3 separate regions of the Homo sapiens genome follow, and regions 2 and 3 are each linked to region 1. The links come from fine-mapping of genetic effects on gene expression. A gene starts in region 1. Each other region holds a variant in brackets. All regions are shown on one strand. Distances are from middle to middle.

Region 1 (6,439 bases):
GTGTCTTAGTCTGTTCAGGCTGCTATAGCAGAATACCATAAACTGGGTGGCTTACAAACAACAGCAATTTACTTCTCATAGTTCTGGAGGCTGTGAAGTCCAAGATCAAGTCACCAGCAGATTCAGTGTCTGGTGAGAGCCCACTTCCTGGTTCATAGATGAACCTTTTTGCTGTGTTCTCACAATGGTGGAAGTGGCAAGCAGTAGTCTAGGACCTCTTTTTTTTTGAGACACAGTCTCGCTCTGTTGCCCAGGATGGAGTGCAGTGGCACGATCTCAGCTCACTGCAGCCCCTGCCTCCTGGGTTCAAGCAATTCCCTGCCTCAGCCTCCTGAATAGCTGAGATTACAGGTGCCTGCCACCACGCCTGGCTGATTTTTGTATTTTTAGTAGAGACGGGGTTTCACCATCTTGGCCAGCCTGGTCTTGAACTCCTGACCTCGTGATCCACCTGCCTCAGCCCCCTAAAGTGCTGGGATTACAGGTGTGAGCCACGGTGCCCGGCCTAGGACCTCTTTTATAAGGGCACTAATCCTATTAAAGGGGGCTCTGCTCTCATGGCCTAATCGCTGTCCAAAGGCCCCAACTTCAAATACCATCACATTGGGGATTACCTTTCAGCTTCCGGAGGGCATAAATCTTTATTAGTCTATAGCATTGTATGAAAACTCTTTCCCTCCGTGTGGAGAGGAGGAATGTCAATGTCTAGAAAAGCTGGGTGTTAAATGCAGAGGCTGAAGTTCAGTGGGACCTAAAAAAAATGGGGGCTCATCTTAAGTTATGATAAACTGATATATAAGTTTGATAAATTGTAAAACATCTTCAGATACTGGTTCACTTATTCAATACTTATTAAACACCTACTATGTATCAGGGGCTATGCCAGTTCATACATACGCATCTTAAATACCCCATGACCTCAAGGAACTCCCAGCTATCTGGTAGTAATGGAAAATGCACATAAATAATTACAGAGCTACAGTAATTGTAGGGAAAAAACCATGAAACCTCCTAACTCAAAGTATAGCATCTGCATCTCCTGGGGCCATCTAAGACTCCACCCCTCAACCCCGGAATCTGCAGTTTAACAAGGATCTCAGGTGATTTGGATCTTTATTAAGATTTGAGAGGTGGCCGGGCGCTCGGTGTCTAAGGCCTGTAATCTCAGCACTTTGGGAGGCCAAGGTGGCCAGATCACCTGAGGTCGGGAGTTCAAGACCAGCCTGACCAACACGGAGAAACCTTATCTCTACTAAAAATACAAAATTAGCCGGGTGTGGTGGCGCATGCCTGTAATCCCAGCTACTCGGGAGGTTGAGGCAGGAGAATCGCTTGAACCCGAGAGGCGGAGGTTGCAGTGACCCGAGATCGCACCATTGCACTACAGTCTGGGCAACAAGAGTGAAACTCAGTCTCAAAAAAAAAAAAAAAAGATTTGAGAAGTGATGAACTCTGGGATTATAGAAGGAACTAGGGGGGTGAAGGAGTTGTAAGGGGTACGGGGCACGAAAAAAAAAAAAAGAAGGAACTACTATTGATCCTTGGGAAGTGGTAAGAGAAGTCTTCAGATGCGAAGGGTGATAGGAACATCCCAGGCTGAAAAAATAAGCAGGCCCATGATCAAGGTAGTTAGAACTAGTAAGAGGTGTTCTGGAATGAGAAGTTTCGTCTGGGAGGGGCAGTGGGCACTTAGGAAGATATGGGAGATAGGGCAGAAAAAGTAGGCTGAGGCCAGAGGCAGACGGGCCAGACTGACCTGCTGAGGGTTATGGAGGAAGCCACAGCAAATTTTAAGCAAGAATGTAACAAGACCAGTCTTATGTTTGGACCTAACTCTGGTGGCAGAGTGGAGGACGAAATGCAGGAGAGGCTGGAGCAAGCAGGCAGGCATGTATCCTTAAATGAGCACCATTCACTTTTGGACTAGAAAGGAAGTCTGAATATTAAGAAGTGTAAGGGCCACAGGGTCCTAGGCAGGCAGAAAAGCAAAGGGTTCCAGCTGCAGGAGGATACAGGGGGGTTCCTTCTCAGTTCAGGAGTGTGGTCTCGGACTGGCATCTTCAGCATCACCTAGGAGTTGTTAGAAATGCCCATTCTCAAGCATCATCTTAGAAGCAGTGAGGGAACCTTGGGGATGGGGCACACAAATCTAGCTTTGAACAACTTTTCCAGGTGATTCTGATGCATGCTAAAGAACCACTGCTCTAGCCCGCCAAAAATCATGTCTCAGGTGGTAAAGGCTTAGAACTGCACAACTTACTGTCTTTTTTAAAAAGAACGAGGGTAATGAGAAATGGGTTCCTATGTTGAGTGGGGCAGAACAAAAGCCACATACAACCTAGATTTTACGTAGTGCCGGAAAAAAAAATACTGACCATCTTGTCCAAAAGTCTCATATTTGGAGAATTAAAATAGTTTTGGTCGAGGCCATGATGTTCTCGGTAACCTAAATTAATTTATAAAATTCTTTGTTCCCTTTATTTCCCACAAAAACACCCGCAGCAAAAACGCTGGGATTCATCTGGGCCCTCTGAAAACCGTGTTTCCGACGCAACCGCCCATTAGAAAAACACAATTCCAAATTAAAAACCCGGAGAACTGAGCGGCGGGGCTGGCGCCACCGTCCCGGGACAGCGCGGCCTTTCCCAGCCACACCCCTGCGCGCCGCCGGCCTCCTTCCCCGGCAGTTCCCAAAGATAAATAAATGCTCCTTGTTTTTCCAGACCTGAAATTAACGGTGACTCACAGAGCACTCTGCATGGCCACGGTCGCCTCGGGAAGGAGGAAAAATGTGCAGACTTTTTTCCCCTCACGCGAGGGCAGGACAAGCCAGACTGGGCCAATCAGGGGAGGGCGGCGGGAATCGCACCAAAGTAGGTAAAAAATGCGGGAGGCGTCCCCGCTGCCGCGGCCCGCGACTCCGCTCCCGTGGGTCCTCCCCCAGTGCGTTCCCCCTCCTCGGGCCCTGCCCTCCCAACCCCCAACATCTCTCTCCTTCCACCACTGTGTCCCTCTCCCTCACCTCTCCCCTTGCCCCCACCTCCCCCACTAAGTGCCCCCTCGCCCCTCCCCCCACATCCCCCTCCTCTCCCCACACTGTCCCCTCTCCCTCACCTCTTCCCTCCCCTCTCCATCCTCCTCCTCCCCCAACTATGTGCCCCTCGCCTCTCCCCTCCAAATCCCCCTCCTTCCCACACTCTGTACCCCTCTCCCCCGGCTCTCCCCTCCTTTTCCCCTCCACGGCCTCGCCCCGCCCCAGCGGCAGGCACACCTGGCCAGGTGGCTGCCTCCCCGCGCGGGCCATGCCTGCACAGTGGGTGGGGCGTCAGGTGGCCCCGCCGAGGAGGCGAAGGAAGGCCACCCCTCCCCCATCATCTTTTGCCCGCCCCTCGCCAGCAGGAGCCAGCCCAGTCCGCCTTCTAGCCTCCTGCAGACCAGAGAGGACGCACCCCCACCCCTAAACACTTTCTGGTGAGGCGGACCCTGCCCCGCAGCCTTCAGCAGATGAGGGAAGCTCCCCTCCGAGACTCTGGATAGCCGCCGGGGGGGCGTTGCCTGGCCGGCTGGTTGCGTAGCAACGGCAGGCGGTGCGTGACGTGCGCAGCCGCGTTCCGTCCTGAGGCGCGCCCGCCCCGGGGTAAGCTCGCGCCGCCGCGTCAGCTCAGCGCTGGGTCTCTCGGTCCCGCAGCCGTGAGGAGGACGGTCTGCATACTCGCTGCCCGCCGGCTCCCTCCCCCGCGTCCCTGCGACCGCCGCGGCGAAGATGGTGAGTAGGAGGGAGGCCGAGGCGTGGGCCGAGGCGGCCGGGAGCAGTGTGTCTCTGGGGCGCCGCGGAGTCGGGGCTAAGGGGGTGAGCCGTGCCTCAGCCCGGGGAGGGACCCGGTCCGGCTGCAGTGTCCGGGCTGCGGGTGAGGGGGGGTCTCTGGGCCTCCGTCTCCCGCCGTCCTGGCTGGGCCCCCGCGCCCCGGGGTGGATCCGCGGCTGTTGCGCAGCTCCCAGCTGGGGCGAGGCCGCCGCCCTGAGCGTGGCCTCTGCGGGTGTCTCCAGACCCGGCCTTGCAACAACTGGCTGGGGTCGAGCGCCCCCACCCGCTCTGTGAAATCCATCCGGGGGTCTGCACACCGAGGCCGGGGAGTGGGGGGCGGGGGGCGTCGGAATCCGGCCACCGTCCTTGTTGGCGTGGGTTTCCCCAGAGCTGGCGCTGAGGCGCTTGGTGACTTGTGCGCGTTCCAGCCCTTGAGGTCTGTCCATCTCAATAAGGAAGATAAAGCCTTTATGGAACAGTCCTAGAGCACGGAATGATCGCTAACGAGCAGGATCCTGGCATGATTTAGAACGGGGTGGCCTTGCAGCTCCTTTGTTTTTTTCTTTTTATCTGGCAATCGGCTTCCAGCAGCACTCTCGTCGTGCTTGTCAAGCTTGGCAGTGTCTGTTTTAACCCTTCCCTGCCCGATCTGTCCGTGTATGGTTAGAATTTTTTTTCTGACCTGTAGACAGTTGGACTCTGCCAGAACTTGGTGCGCAAGGTGTGGGCATGATGCTGGGATGCTGATACAACCAAATTTAAGAGCTTTAAAAACCATTAAAATACTGGAGTCACCAGAAAGTAAACAGGTGCTCATTAGTATATTCTATATGATGGACATTTTGCTTAATTTACATATTTTCCCCCTTTACACTGTCACTCTAATTAGCTATTTAAAAACGTATTCTCAACTGAACTATCAGTTGGAACATTTTGTCGTTTTCGTTAGTGTGCACACACTGTTACCATTTTTGGTCAGTGATTTGCAGGCGTAGCCTTACCAGACTTTGCTAGAAATATTACACTGTAATTGCATCTGTCTAGAAGCAGTTGGTACCAGCTTATCTGCATACAAACTGTTTTCACTGTATAACAGTTTTGGTTTTCTTAAGTTACTACAACTTCCGTGAACATGCAGGCGGCCCCTTAGTGAAAGAAAAGATAAACCGGTAGTTTCTTGATGACTGTAGATATGTATGTAATAGGGATTTGATACTGTTCAGTTTTTGGTTCTTCTTTGGTTTAATGCTGTAAGCTACAAAGTATCAGCATCTTGAGTCTTTTTAATATCTAATTATTAGAAATTTAATAACATTTTAAATGTATATGCTACTTTATACTGAAAGACTTAATCTAGGGGCTTTGAGTTATGGTACGCTTAAGACCATTCACTCTGTGAAAGTGCTTTGAAGCTGACTAGGGTCTGCTCTAGAGACTTCTGATTTGACATTATGCTTTTTTATTGAGTGGCTAATACAGACTTTATTTTTCTGTTTGAAAATAAGAGACCAAACATTTTACCTTTAGTTAAATGCTTAGTTTTAGTTAAAGCTTAACTAAATTCAAGGAAGGAAGGGTCTGTTATATTTCCTGGTTCTTGTGAGGAGTGGGAGAAATAAAAATTAGAAATGAGCGATTTCCAAATACGCTTCAAAATTGTTGGCTTTAGGGAGATCAAGAAGACCTTACAAGTTACTCTTAGAGTTCAGATTATAGACCCCCCATTTTTAAAGGTTATTTTTGTTTTTAGCCTTATGAGCGCAGGAGCATCTTTGTTTAGTTCAGTGATTAGAGAATATTGTGGGTATTATCCCAGAGTCTAGCACTTTGCTTTTAGCTCTTTTGGTTAGATGCTTGGTTCCAAGTTTCTTTTAAGATTAAATTTTAACTACCGATGGGTTTGTTCTAAATTAGCAGAATCACTTCCTTGTACTCACCAAGTCTTTTAGAAGCACCTGAAATAAAGCAGTTTGAAACCAGCTGGGCGCTTCAGGATGAGATTAGATGTTTTCAGATGTCTCCTCCAACAAAAAACAAACAACGTCTGCCTCCACGTGAACCACAATTACAGACCCCAAACAAAACGTGTGTGTGTGTGTACTGGGTGTGCCAGCCTCCTTATACAGAGATTGTTTAGTAGCCCATCATCAAGTTACTAAGGTTATTTGCTCAGTAGTTCTACTGGATATGGATTGAGACATCACACCTAGACTTGCCTAGCTCCTCTTGTAACCAGAGTATCTTTTATGCTTCTTGGAAAGTAAGAGTGTAGTCTTGCCCCTGAAGTAGAGTTAAAAGGTTTGCACGATAATCTAACCCTTAACCTTATCCTAATCTGGACTGTGGTCTCACAGACTGAACTAATTGGCGCAGTATTCAAGTATTCTAATACTTGGTGATTAGCAAAAACACTACAACCCAGTGAAATAGGTTGGGCATGTATTCACATGCCTATTTAACATATGAGAAAACAGATTGTAAAGGATTAATTGACTTGAGACAAATCACCTTTTCCAACTCCAAGTTTTAAAATAATAATTTTGAAACATTTTAAGCAGAAAAGTACACAGAATAACAGATCCTTTTGTACAGGAAAAACAGGGCTATCTTATTGCCATATTTCAGGTTTTTATG
Region 2 (6,439 bases), 110 kb after region 1:
CTTAGCCTCCCAAAGTGCTGGGACTACAGGCTGAGCCACCATGCCCGGCCCACCTGCAGTCTTTTTAAAATCAAACTGTACAGAATAAGTCTCCAGATCTTCCAACTTAAGAGGGATATGACTTAAGATGGAAAAGACTAACTTAGCTTCAGAGCAGTGGCTAAAGTTGACCTTTTAAGAGTCCTTTGACACATTACCAATAAGACTTTTTTCATTAAGAGTCTCAATAATTCATTTATTCTTCAGCATTGACTCCTTCCTCCCCTCAATCACTGTGATTACTATTCTGAAAATTAAGACTTTCCTTTCTAATTACTACAAATACCTAGAACTACCAAGGAAATAAAAATGTATTCATAAAACTAAAGCTACATCTAATTCCTATTCAGGATCAGACTTAATTAAAAACCAATTTAATGCAGTTGAGTTGCACACTTTAATCACTGAATGAGAACTTCAAAAAAACACACCACCTGGGTTTGAACAAGGGTCTTTCACCTTTCCAAGTAAAATGAGTAGGTCAGACATTCCCGTTAGAAAGGGCTAGAAATCTAGTATCTACTCTTCTTCACCTAAAATCAACAGGAGAGAAGAGGAGAAACAAAGGATGGGGCTGGACGTAGTATTGCCTCTTCCCAACCAGACCACCCTGCCTCAGCCATTGCTCCTCCTACTTAGTGGACTGCCACACAAAATTCCTCTGAGAAAAGAACATCACCATGAGGTGAGGCAGGAGAGGAACCTTGACCCCTCCCTCACTTCCTAGCACGATGAGGACTGACCAAGAGAAAACAAAATGTAATGCCAACTATAAGAATTCTCCCGGCCAGGCTCGGTGGCTCAAGCCTGTAATCCCAGCACTTTGGGAGGCCGAGGCAGGTGGATCACGAGGTCAGGAGATCGAGACCATCCTGGCTAACATGGTGAAACCCCGTCTCTACTAAAAAAAATACAAAAAAATAGCTGGGCTTGGTGGTGGGCGCCTGTAGTCCAGCAGGAGGGTGAGGCAGGAGAATGGCATGAACCTGAGGGCAGAGCTTGCAGTGAGCTGAGATGCACCACTGCACTCCAGCCTGGGAGACAGAGCGAGACTCCCTCTCAAAAAAAAAGAATTCTCCCTTCTCCCCCTAAGGAACATTCTTGCCCACTAAACACAAAATCTACCTCTTTTCAGAGCAGCCAGCACACTGTTCACACCCAAAACAAATGTTCTGTTTCCTGGTGAGTGTGTCGTCACTGAAATGCTCAGTGACTCTGCAAGGCCCACCTCACACTCATTGGTTATACAAGGAATTAAAGGATGCTCACAGCCAAGTCTCCTCCCCAGAACTGGTGCAAGCACCTGGGAAGGGCCCAGTTCTGTCAAGGTGCCATGCATGATGGACTCCCAGAGACACTGGGATGAATCTAACCAGGCTGGAGACTGAGGGCTCCCAGGAGAGAGCCAACATCCACATCGTCTCCTAAGGTTCACTTCAAACCCCAGCCTCCGCTGGAAGGGCAGGATGTCCACATTTAACAGTGCCCTCTGCATGTGACTGTCAATTTCTCAACTGGAGGCAGGCTGGAGGTAATCCAAACTTCACTTGCATTTGGCTCTGGAATATGTTTTTGTGTTTATATGTGATGCTCTAGGAATCCAGACTCCTTCAGGCTACATGATATACTCGCAGAACGCCAGTGCTACAAAATCATCTCCATTAGCTCAGCAAGAATGGGCACCTATTGCATGCTAGTCACTGCCCTCGACACTGGATATACCTCAGGAAACAAAAGCTACATCCCTGCACTGGTAGAGCTTACGCTTCAGAGGGGGAGATGACAAAGTCAGTCAAATACGGGACATGTCAGGGGGTGATGAAGAGAAAGTGATGCAGAGAAGGGGGGCAGGGAGTGGGGGTGGGAGAGCGTCAGAGGCTGACACTCCACACAGGGTAGCCAACAGGCCTGAAGGAGATGAGGGAGCCAGCCATGTGCCATCTAAGGAAAAGCTCTTAGGGATATGCCAAAGTAGACGCAAAGGCCCGGAGGCAGAAGCATGCCTGAGGAACAGAGGCCACCGTGGCTGCAGCAGAGGACAGGGAGATGGTAGGAGTGAAGCTAGAGCGAAAGTGCCCTGAGAGGCCACTGGAGACCTTGACCAAGGAGGGTCTTGAACAGAGGAGTGACATGGTCTGCTCTGGCAACAGACTAGAAGGCAGGGGGTATAGGCAAAGGCAGGGAGCCCACCAGAGGCTAGAGAAATAACCCGGGGCAGAGGTGAGAGCAGGCTGGGCATGCTGGCTCACGCCTACAATCCTGGCACTTTGGGTGGCCAAGGCAGGAGGACTCCTTTAGCCCAGGAGTTCAAGACTAGCCTGGGCAACGTGGCAAGACACCATTTCTACAAAAAAACCTAAAAATTCACTGGGTGTGGTAGCATGCACTTGTGGTACCAGCTACCCAGGAGGCTGAGGCAGGAGGATTAACTGAGCCTGCAATGTTGTAACTGCAGTGAGCAGTGATTGCGCCACTGTACTCCAGCCTGGGTGATAGAACAAGACCCTCTCAGAAATAAAAAATCAAAAGGTAAGAGCTGTTTGGACCAGGGAGAAGGCAGAAGTGGTGAGAATGGTCACACTGGCTCTGTCTGGAAGGTAGAGCTGATGGGACCTGCTGCGTACAGGGTACAGGTATGAGACGGCGAGGAGTTAAGGATAAACCGAGGTTTGTGGCCTGAAAGGTGGAGCTAGCTGGCCTAGTTTCATTTTATAGGAGGGAGAAAACTGAAGCCCAGGGAGGAGAAGTCATGTCCAAAGTCACTCACTCACTCCAGGGATCAGAACACCCAACCAGTGCTTCTCCCACTGCTCCACACAGCAGCTCCGTGGGACAAGCTGATGACTAGTCCGGTCACACCGGACAGCCCCCAGCACCCTGAGGGACTGCCAATACCCAAGCACATAACATATATTGGGGTAGGATGCTGGGCACTGAGAGCACAGGCCCAGCTTAGAGAGGACAAACACAGTCCACGGCTGCCACACAAGAAAGTCAACCTAGTGTAGCCAGAAATTCCCATTTTCCCCCAGAGAACCCAAAAATCTAGATTTTGTTTTTGTTTTTTATTATGAGACAGAGTCTCACTCTGTCGCCTAGGCTGGAGTGTAGTATGATCTTGGCTCACTGCAACCTCCACCTTCCAGGTTCAAATGATTCTCCTGCTTCAGCCACCTGAGTAGCCAGGACTACAGGCACATGCCACCATGCCTGGCTAGTTTTTGCATTCTTTATAGAGATGGGGTTTTGCCATGTTGCCCAGGCTGGTCTCAAACTCCTGGGCTCAAGCGATCCACCCGCCTTGGCCTCCCAAAGTGCTGGGATTACAGGGATTAGCCACTGTGCCCAGCCCAAAAAATCTAGATTTTAGT[GA/G]AAAAAAAAAAAAAAATTCCACTTTTAAAAGGTGACTCAATTGCTTAATAACATGAGGTCAGTGAAACAAATTCCATGTGAAGGCCAAGTTCAGCTCACACAGGGCACCAGTTTGGAATTCCTCTCAAGACAGCCTAACAGACCTTGTTTGCTTATACCCTAACAGACCTTGTTTGCTTATACCTTGCCCAGGATAGAGAATTAAAGATTTGAATTCAAGATGGTCTTTTATTCCAACTTTTGAGTCAGCAGATGATATTCATTATCACTATAAATAGTCTGTAACTTCCAGTAGTCTTAGTGGGCCTCCTTTCTGACCAGAAAGAGATCAAGTAGCTGTCCATCATTCAGCTTCTTCCTTTAAAGTTAAACTTTGGTTTTATATTATTCTTTACAGAGTACTAATACTAAGATGAGCCCACAAGTACAACCAAGAATTCAAAAATTATTCCCCAGTACTGCCCAATGATCCTTTCGAAGTTATATGGAGGCCGGGCACGGTGGCTCATGCCTATAATCCTAGCACTTTGGGAGGCCGAGGAGGGCAGATCACCTGAGGTCAGGACTTCTAGACCAGCCTGACTAACATGGTGAAACCCCGTCTCTACTAAAAATACAAAATTAGCCGGGTGTGGTGGCGCATGCCTGTAATCCCAGCTACTTGGGAGGCTGAGGCAGAAGAATCACTTGAACCCGGGAGGTAGAAGTTGCAGTAAACCAAGATCACGCCATTGGACTCCAGCCTGGGCAACAAGAGCGAAACTTTGTCTCAAAAAAAAAGAGAAAAAAGAAAAAGAAAAAAAAGTTATATGGAGAATAACAGAGCTGTGTAAATAGTCACTGGTGTAGGAAGCAATTTATGCCACCCAAGAACACTGGAACTCCAATACTTTGGAACTGAAAAGGTTTCGGGACTGGGCAGGTATTCTAGTCTTGCCAAAAAAATCTAAGTTAGAAATCACAAAATGTTCTTGATAAGTTAAAGTTGCTGCCCATTGTTGACAGGTGGAAGACACATGTTACTGAATGCACATAAAGGACACACACGTCTGGTTTTGGGGGTGTCTGGTTGTCTGCTTCAGGAGACTCGGCCAGAATTTGTCTGCCTAAGAAAAGTCTCCTAGGAGGCCCCTGAACTAATTTTCTATATGCTAAGTGAGAGTGCCTCCTTGCCTAGGCACTGTCACTTAAAATTAAATATTTACCTTCCCTTACAAGCCATCACTTTCTACCTAATATCAATTTATTTTCTGTCTTTGTTACAAGTCACCATTTTGATGCTGAGGGCATTGGGTAAAAAATCTCTCCAGGAAAGGGCCACTATCTGTGTGGCCCCCCTCCCACTCCTTTTTCTTGGAATGCAGTTTACAATGCACACAAAGAGGCGGGACTAATGCTTTCTCAGGGTGAGATCTTATCAGGTGAAGTGTATCAACTGCCACTAGTCAACTGGTTTTGACCTACAGAATGGGCAATTTCATGTGGTTCAACATATTACCACATGATCAAGAGGAACAGGGACATGAATGTTTACAGAATACCAGCTGCCTCTACATCAGCACTGTCTAGAACTTTCTGTGATGGTGGAAACCATCTACAGCCACGCTGACCAACTTATGACTACTGAGCACCTGAAATGTGGCTAATTTGACTCAGAAATTGAATTTTTAATTTTACTTAATTTGAATTGTTTTAAACTTAAATTGCTACTTGTGGCTACTGTATTGGACAACACAGTTCTAGACAGTAGCTTTTTCAGGCAAGAACTAGGTCTCACTTGCGGTGTTTGAAGGCCCACCACACAGGAGACCCTCGGTGAAAAAAATGAAATGAAAAATACCTTCAGCACTGCCAGATTTTCAAAATGCCTCCCCACCTTCCTGCCACTGAAGCTCTTAATTTTGATCTTCACGTTCTGTGTCCTCCCTTGGGTAATTATTGCCCCAGGAAGGTGGAGGTATATAGCCAGGAGGGAACATTTGGAAGGCCGGGCCCACATCGCCTAGCAACTGGGCAACAGGAACTGGCCTGACAACCTTCTGACCAGCTGGACCTCCACATTCTCATCCACTGAATGGGTGACAACCATTCCCACCCCCTAGAACAGGGTTATTTTAAGGCCTAAATGTAAACCACAGTTGTGGAATCTGATTCTAAAAAGTGAACCTTAAAAACCAAGTTGGGCTAAGCTTCATTTATCCAATGAGACAGCTGGGAATAGTTTAACAGGTATGGGGGCGCTGTCCGCCTGGTATAACCAATATTTATGATGTTATAGGCCAGGCCTTAACCACTGCAGGCCCAGCATGCACAGACGGACAGCACAGTCCCTGCCTTCATCATTCTGACTTGACCATTATTTTTGTTTCTCCTGAAACAAGATTTTAGCAAAGAAAAACTTGCTGTCTCAACAGAACTGTTGATCCTCTATGTGTCATTCATCTATTAGTTAAAATTCCCAGGGCTAAAAAGACAAGAAGAGTCTGGGGTCCCGACACTTTTAAAAGGTGTCCCTGCTACATAATAAATCAATACTCCAATTCAATCACTGGCATTCAACCATTTAAACTGAGTTTGCTGCTATGTAATTATTGCAGCCTGTTGAGTTAGGGCTCATTTCATTAAAGAGCATAATTGCTCAAATGTGACTTGATTTAAGATTTATTTAAAACTCTTCCATCACCAAAAAATACTCATATACCATGAACCACTGTAACTTCTTAATCTCTCTGTAAATGTTCAGAGGCAGATTCCTAAGTATGAAAGGTGAGAGTTGTTATAGTGCCTAGAGCTCTAAACCCTCTCCTAAACCCCAAGATCCCTTTCTGGTTTCCCCTCCCCCAACCTTAGCCTCCTCCAGGCCTCCACTGGCCCAAGATCCCTGCAAGCCGGCTTTGCGGTGCTCCATGTAAAAGGAAAACTTCACCTACTAGGAGGTCTGCCCCGGCCTTTGCTTCAACAGAGAGGGAAATGGCACCTCCAGGACCTCAGAACCGGAAGCTTCTTTCTGGAAGGGAAAGAGGTTGGC
Region 3 (6,439 bases), 41 kb after region 1:
CAGGAGAATGTGCAGTGTCTTGTAACAACTAATTATAATGCAAATTAGGGCTACATTGTAATCTGCTTTGTTAATGAAAATGATAAAACAGAATATTGACAAGCTAGGACACCTGTGGTATCTTTAATTGTATCTCCTTCAGAAGTTTGCTTCTTATGGTATAATAAAGTATGGAAGAATATTGAGTATATGTTTACTCTGGGCCTGGGAGAACTTAACTTTCTAGAGCAGTTTGTTGACTTGTGTGCAATGGGGAGAGGTACCATGATGACACTCACAGGGAGCCACTGTTCACTGACACTTGGAAGCGGTCATTGTTAATATCACGGGCGTAACACTTTGAACGATATAGAGATGCACAAACAGTTGAACTTAGAAGTAGCAGTATTGGCTTTATGTAATAAAGGAAGCATTTTTGACTTACCTCTCGTGTAATTTTCATGTGTGAATTGGGAATACAGGATTTTGCCTTCCATATGGGGTAAGGCATTGAGGTTTGGGTATTTCCAATAATTAAGAGTTAAGGTTGGCTGAGTGTGGTGGCTCACTCCTGTAATCCCAGCATTTTGGGAGGCCGAGGCAAGAGGATAGTTTGAGGCCAGGAGTTTGACAATCAGCGTGGGCAACATAGTGGGATCTCATCTACTAAAAATAAACAAAATTAGCCGGGTGTGGTGGTGCACGTCAGTAGTCCCAGCTACTTTGGATGCTGAGGTGGGAGGATCACTTGAGCCCAGGAGGTGAGCTGAGATCGTGCCACTGTACTCCAGCCTGGATGACAGAGCAAGACCTTGTCTCAAAAAAAAAAAAAAAAGTCACAACTCCCTCTGGTGAATAAGAAAGTTGGTGTAAAAGTTGGGAACGTTTTCAATGTTTATTACACTATAAGTGTAATAAATATTATACAAAATTATAAATTCACATTTAAAATTTAGAAAATAGAGAAAAGGGAAATTATACATTGTCCTACCACATGCCATCACATGGTTAGCATTTTGATACACAGCTGTGCATTATTACATGTCAAAGACTGCATATACTATGGTGGTCCCATACAATTATAATGTATTTTCTACTGTAATTAGATACACAAATACCATTGTGTTACAGTTGCCGACAGTATTCAGTATAGTAACGTGCTGTCCAGGTTTGTGGTCTAGGAGTAATAGGCTCTACCATACAGCCTAGGTGTGTAGTAGGCTATGCCACTAGGTTTAAGTGCAGTCTAGGGTGGGGAACATTTTAATGTTGATCCACATGCCAGGTGTTTGTGAGACAAGATTATGCTTTAATCAAAATATTTTGGAATTGTCTAGAAAATAGTGCTGGCTGCTTGTCATTCATCCTGAATTGCTTGTTTCTTTACTTTGTAGCAATGCTTTTAGTGTGGGTTTTGTTTTTTGAGACAGGGTCTCACTCTTTCCCCCAGGCTAGAGTGCAGTGGTGCAATCATAACTCACTGCATCCTTGAACTCTTGGGCTCCAGCAAGCCTCCTGCCTTGGCCTCCTAAAGTGCTGTGATTACAGGTGTGAGCCACTGTGTCCTGCTAGTGATTGTGATTAACAGGCCTCCAGGGAAGTGCCATAAGCCCAAGACTGCCGTACTCAAAAGTCAGCCATGTAGGTAAAGCAAGATATTTGGTCAAGGAGTTTTAGAAGGAGATTTTTCCTGTGGTGTTGGCTTAAGTGTGGCACTGTTGTGCGTGTGTGAGGTGTCTTCTGTGGGAAGGATTTCAAACAGTACAAAGGGATGTGATGTAAGCATCCAGAACTCACTCCAGAAATTGAATAAAATGCTAGTAGTTAGTCTCTAGGGGAACTTTTGAGAAAGTCTCAGTGGATTCCTGAGGCCCAAGAATTGTGCTAACAAGCACTCAAGGCGATTCTGGTACATAATTAGGGTTCAGACCTCAGCTGATTGGTCTACTGTTGGTCAGGAACAAAACTGCAAGTATACTCTGTTTCCAGAAAATACGTTTACCTCTTCACAAATGCTAACACACTGCAAAAATATGTTTGTGGAAAGCTGACTTAGTCTCATCTAGCGGTTACTCTCTTGCCCTGACAAAGCAGCAAATAAAGCCATTGCTAACAATTCAATCAGAGCTTGACTGTGAAGTTATCTCAGATAATATTACTCTGCAAAAACAGTGGACACAGTGACTTGGATAATAGGTTTGGTTTGGTGGTTTCCTTTCTGCAGAGTACCGGCTGCCGCAGGCACAGCAAGTGCAACTTGTTTCTTGACTATAATTGCCCTTCGGACCACCAGAGACTGAATATGCCCAACACGCATCACTTCTTCGTGATTTGGGGCATTTCTGAAATTGAGAACGGGCTCTAGACTGGGTTCCAGCTGGACTGCAGCTGGAAGGGACAGTAATGGCATTATGGCTGGTGAGGGGAGTATTCCAGGAGCCAGGGTTTCAGTGGAAGGCAGGCTTGAGTACCGTTTTGTTACTGAGGGCTCTCTGGGTTCTGCACAGTCCCAAAAGGGCACTGGGGAAGGGACTTATGGAGCCTCTGGCCAGTACCCTCAGTAACCAGCCCAGAGGTGAATTAACTTGCCTAAGGTTAATCGACTCACAAGTGGCAGAACTGGGACAAAAACTCAGATCTCTTGGTTTCTGTTCCTGAGCTATTTCCACCACCTCAGGAGAATTCACTTCATTCCTCTTATTATAATTGGATCATCTTTCCACATTTCTAACATCTGAAATTCAAAGGTTAGACCTTGTTCAGTGCTGGGGTGAGATTTGAAAGGGCCAAGAAGGAAAGCATTTCTTTTGCACTCTGAGCTCTCATCAGACCCAGCCCTGAAGGAAGTGTAGTGATGGCATCTGTGGAGGGCGTGGAGTGGCTTCTAGAACAAAACCTCGCTTTCCCCGCACCTGTCCCTCAGGCCTCGCTGGCTTCCTGCCTTCACTGCACCGCTTCCGTAGGTGTGGCCTGCAGGCGCAGCATCGTGGTGCCTGTGTGTTCCAGAATATCACATGGAGACACCTGAGGAAGCTGGTCAGGGCGCAGCTGTCTGTG[AG/A]GGGCTTCAGGTCTTGTTGTGCTGTCTATGGGCCATGTTAACCTGGAACTTCACATCTACTCTGTGGGCTCTGATCCATCTTCACCCAGCGGCCCAAACCCAGGGTCTGGCTTTGTGAAGCTGGGCCAGGGAGGAGCAGTGGTTCCTCTGTCGGGCAGCAGCTGGGTGAGTCCTGCCTCCACGGTGAACTTCATTCCAAGAACAGCACAAGCCAGTCCTCTGGTGCTGCCTGAGCTCGGCTACAGCTGCAGGACAGGGCTGCGAATGGCCAGGCCAGTGACCTGTGCCACGCTGGGGAATGCTGTGGGGCTGGGGGGGTGCTGCTAGCCCCTTCCGCAGGAAGTTTGCGAGGGCTGCGCCTCAGCTGGCTTCCCTGGAGCCTGACATGGAACCTGGCCTGGGACAGTTGAGGAGGCCCGGCCCACCTGAGGCAGGGCCCAGCCGGTGGCCTGGCAGACTCAGGCTCCCTCTGCCCACCTGGGAGGTACCACTGCCGGGCCTGAGGACTGCTCTGGCCCTGCTGGGGCAGGCGGGGACAACAGATGATGGGCCCTTAGAACGAGCTGCAGGAGAAAAGCTCCCAAGTGGCATTTTCCTGAACTCCCAGGCCAGCCGCACAGGAGTCCTACACCCTGTGCTACCTGCCTTCGGCTTCCTCCCTTCTGCATGCACAGACCTGGGGCTCCCAGCAGGTGGCCTGAAGGAGCAGGCTTTTAGCCAGAGTCCAGGAGGAGGCCACTGCCCCTCACAACCCAGAGGCGGCAGCGTGGCACCCCAGCATCCCTTGTCTCTTTCCCCAAGGTCTCCCCTTTCCGCTGCTCAAAATGGGTACCCCTGCCCCATTCCTGTGCCTTCAGAGGGGATCAGCCCAGCATGGAGCGCTCAGTCTCGCAGTGTGGCAGGTCGAGGGGGCGATTCGGTGGCAGCCCTGGCACAGGTCTGTCCGTTCCCCACACTCACCGGGGCCCACACCACTGACCTGACCTACAGCCACCCACGTGCAGAGTTCTGCCTCCTGCAGGCGGCCTCCCTCACCCAGAACCTGTGCTCCCACTCAGCCCCCTGTACCAGATGCATGGGGCGCGGATGCAGGGGGCCCAGTGGCTGTTGCGGGGCGCTCAGCCCAGGGTGTTCTTCCCCAGGCTCCCCACATTGCAGAGCCCAGCCCTGCCCCACAAGCACTGACCTCCCAGGCTGCGGGGCCTAGCCACGTGTCAGAGAGATGGGTTTGAACCTGCCCAGCCTTTAGCCCGGGGAGGTACCTTCACTTCCATGGGGCAGGATGCACCTCACCGGGAGGACCGAGGGCTCGCTGAGCGCCAGGCACAGGGCGGGAAACGGGCAGCCATCAGGTGTCCTTGTGGGCACTTCCTGCTACTCAGTCTCCCAGCCAGAAGCCAGGATGTCAATGTCCCAAGACCGTGGGATCCCTTTCTGCTTCAGCCTCCTCTAGAGAATTCTAAAACAGGCAGGCTTGGCTCTCCCTGCTCAGAAACCTCAGTGGCTGTACTGCCTCCCCAGTCCAGGGCCCCCCAGTCTTGGTAACCTGGCTCCACAACAGGCCGTGCCTCACCCCGCCCTCCACGCCTCTACGCTGCTGCTGCCTGAGTGCCAGCCTCCCTCACCTCACACACATCTGCTCTTCCTGGGAGCTCAGCTTAAGCCCACTTCTCCAGGGGCCTTCCTAGGACTCCCAGCACCCAGAACAGCCATGACGCACAGTGCCACATACCATAGCTGGGTGGCCCACAGGCACTTCCTGAGAACTGACATAAGGTCTGGGCCGAGCAGTTTGAGGCTAAGCAGTTCAAGGCTGCAGGCAGAGGCCGTGTGGGGGGCTGAGGAAGGGAGGCACACAGACGCACACCGCGGGGCTTCCCTTGGTCTTGAGGTTGTGAAAACCATCCGAGTCACTGCCACCACCTGAAGGGGCCATGCACGACAGAGATCCCAGAGCAGGCCACCTGCCAAGCTCATAGGCCTGTGGAGACCCCGGTTCTTGCTGCCACTGTCCCTGACAGAACCCTTCTCACAATGTCGTCCTGGAGGACCTGCCATCCAAGAGCCCAGTTGTCCCCCAGCCAAGTTCGGCCAAGCAGACCCTCTCCCAAGATTCCGAGGCTTGGCAGGGAGATTAAAGTGAACAGTCCTTGGTCAAGGCAGACCCGCCTTCCATTCCGGGCTTGGTTGGGGCCCTACTGTGACTCTGAGCCTCTGAACGTCTTTGTGGACTAAGCTCCAGGTTCCTATTGTTTACACTCAAAGGGACACACTTCTTGGGGCCAAAGACCATGCTGTCAGGGGCCGCTGAGGACACTGGGTCTGAGGGTCGTGGCAAACCTAAGCTGGTTTCTGCAGGTGAAACTCCACCTCCCGAGGGCAGGCAGTGGGCTGCTCCAGCCCTGGCCCACCCTCCTGGGGTGTGGGTGTCTAAGCCCCAGCCAGGACAGAGACCCCTTGTTCATTCCCGGACCTCCATCACGCAACAGCCCGGGCCACCAGCCGCGCTCACAAACCTCAGCCCCTCCGGGATGCGGGGCAGCAGTAAATGTATCTGGCTCTCAGGTGTCGCAGGCCCTGCTCCCTTATCCTGCCCGGAGGGCACTGAGGTCTGGGAGGTGACAAGGAAAACTGCTGGGGGCCCCGGAAGCAGCGAGTCTCAGCCCCACCCCACGCTACGCGGAGCTGCAGAGCCTCTGCCTTCAAAGCAGCTGAGGCCCACGCTTACTCTCTTCCCGAGTGCGCCCCCACCCCTTGGTTCTTCATCTTGGGCCCAACAGCGGGTGGGGGAGCCCCAGCAGAAGACCAGACGAGACCGCAGCACCGGGCACCAACGTTGGTTTTAATGGCATCAACACCCAGGAGGTCACACGTCAGTTCTGGTTGGCAACGTCTAGGGGTGAGGGGCTGTGGCCTCCAGTCGGCCCCACAGCCTTTGAGAACTGGCTGCCCGGTCCCACCCGCTTCCCGCCCCGCCCCACTGAAAAAACACTAAACGATTGCACTGACAGACAGACCCCAGAGCGCCCGGCCTCCCACACACCCACGGGGCTGTCAGAGTCAACCAGGGCTTTGGCGTCACTCGGCGGTGGCCCGGGGCTGCGCCCAGGATAGTGTTTATCAAATGTGACACAGGTTCATTTACAAACTGGGGCTCTGGAAGGTCTACTTCTGTGGCTCTAAGAGACTTGTCTCTCATGGCTTCTCTCGGAGCTACCGGAAGTTGGGCCTGGATAACGCTGTGTAGGTTGGTTGGTTTATTTGTAAGGAATGTGTAAGGCATTTTGGTAAGTTGAACAGTAACTTCTTTTTCCAAAGAGGAAACTCAGACAGAGGTGCCCTCCTTTGAGCTGCTGCCGTCCTCCTGTGAACGAAGGCAGGTGGCGTGAGGGGGGCTGGGCC

Which allele goes with the higher level. Alleles are on the strand shown, and positions count from the first base shown. SD is a standard deviation of normalised expression in the study named. Not every link is listed here.
For the expression in B cells of the gene that starts at base 3,630 in region 1, allele GA in region 2 goes with a higher level than allele G (small effect, 0.30 SD a copy in Fairfax 2012).

The links. PIP is the estimated chance that this variant, and not a neighbour inherited with it, causes the effect.
Region 2: its variant is the best candidate, but not a certain one, in a credible set for the expression of DSTN in B cells (Fairfax 2012, PIP 0.69).
Region 3: its variant is the best candidate, but not a certain one, in a credible set for the expression of DSTN in whole blood (TOPMed, PIP 0.70).

Annotation. Positions count from the first base shown.
Region 1 is chr20:17,566,446-17,572,884 of GRCh38, forward strand. DSTN (destrin, actin depolymerizing factor) reads left to right here and starts at 3,630. Exons shown (of 4, transcript NM_006870.4): 1 at 3,630-3,766. The coding sequence starts at 3,764. It also overlaps a transcript of BFSP1 not described here. RefSeq lists an enhancer at 2,593-3,160 and silencers at 3,571-3,760, 3,781-4,070.
Region 2 is chr20:17,673,658-17,680,096 of GRCh38, forward strand. RRBP1 (ribosome binding protein 1) reads right to left here. Exons shown (of 25, transcript NM_001365613.2): 2 at 6,342-6,418. Among named protein-coding and RNA genes, the nearest start is that of RRBP1, 5.4 kb to the right of the region's middle. RefSeq lists an enhancer at 5,879-6,439. The variant GA/G (reference allele first, on the strand shown) is at 3,411.
Region 3 is chr20:17,607,820-17,614,258 of GRCh38, forward strand. DSTN (destrin, actin depolymerizing factor) reads left to right here. Exons shown (of 4, transcript NM_006870.4): 4 at 1-2,100. It overlaps RRBP1 (ribosome binding protein 1), which reads right to left. Exons shown (of 25, transcript NM_001365613.2): 25 at 5,860-6,401. The coding sequence ends at 6,363. Among named protein-coding and RNA genes, the nearest start is that of DSTN, 41 kb to the left of the region's middle. RefSeq lists enhancers at 3,923-4,646, 6,095-6,439. The variant AG/A (reference allele first, on the strand shown) is at 3,037.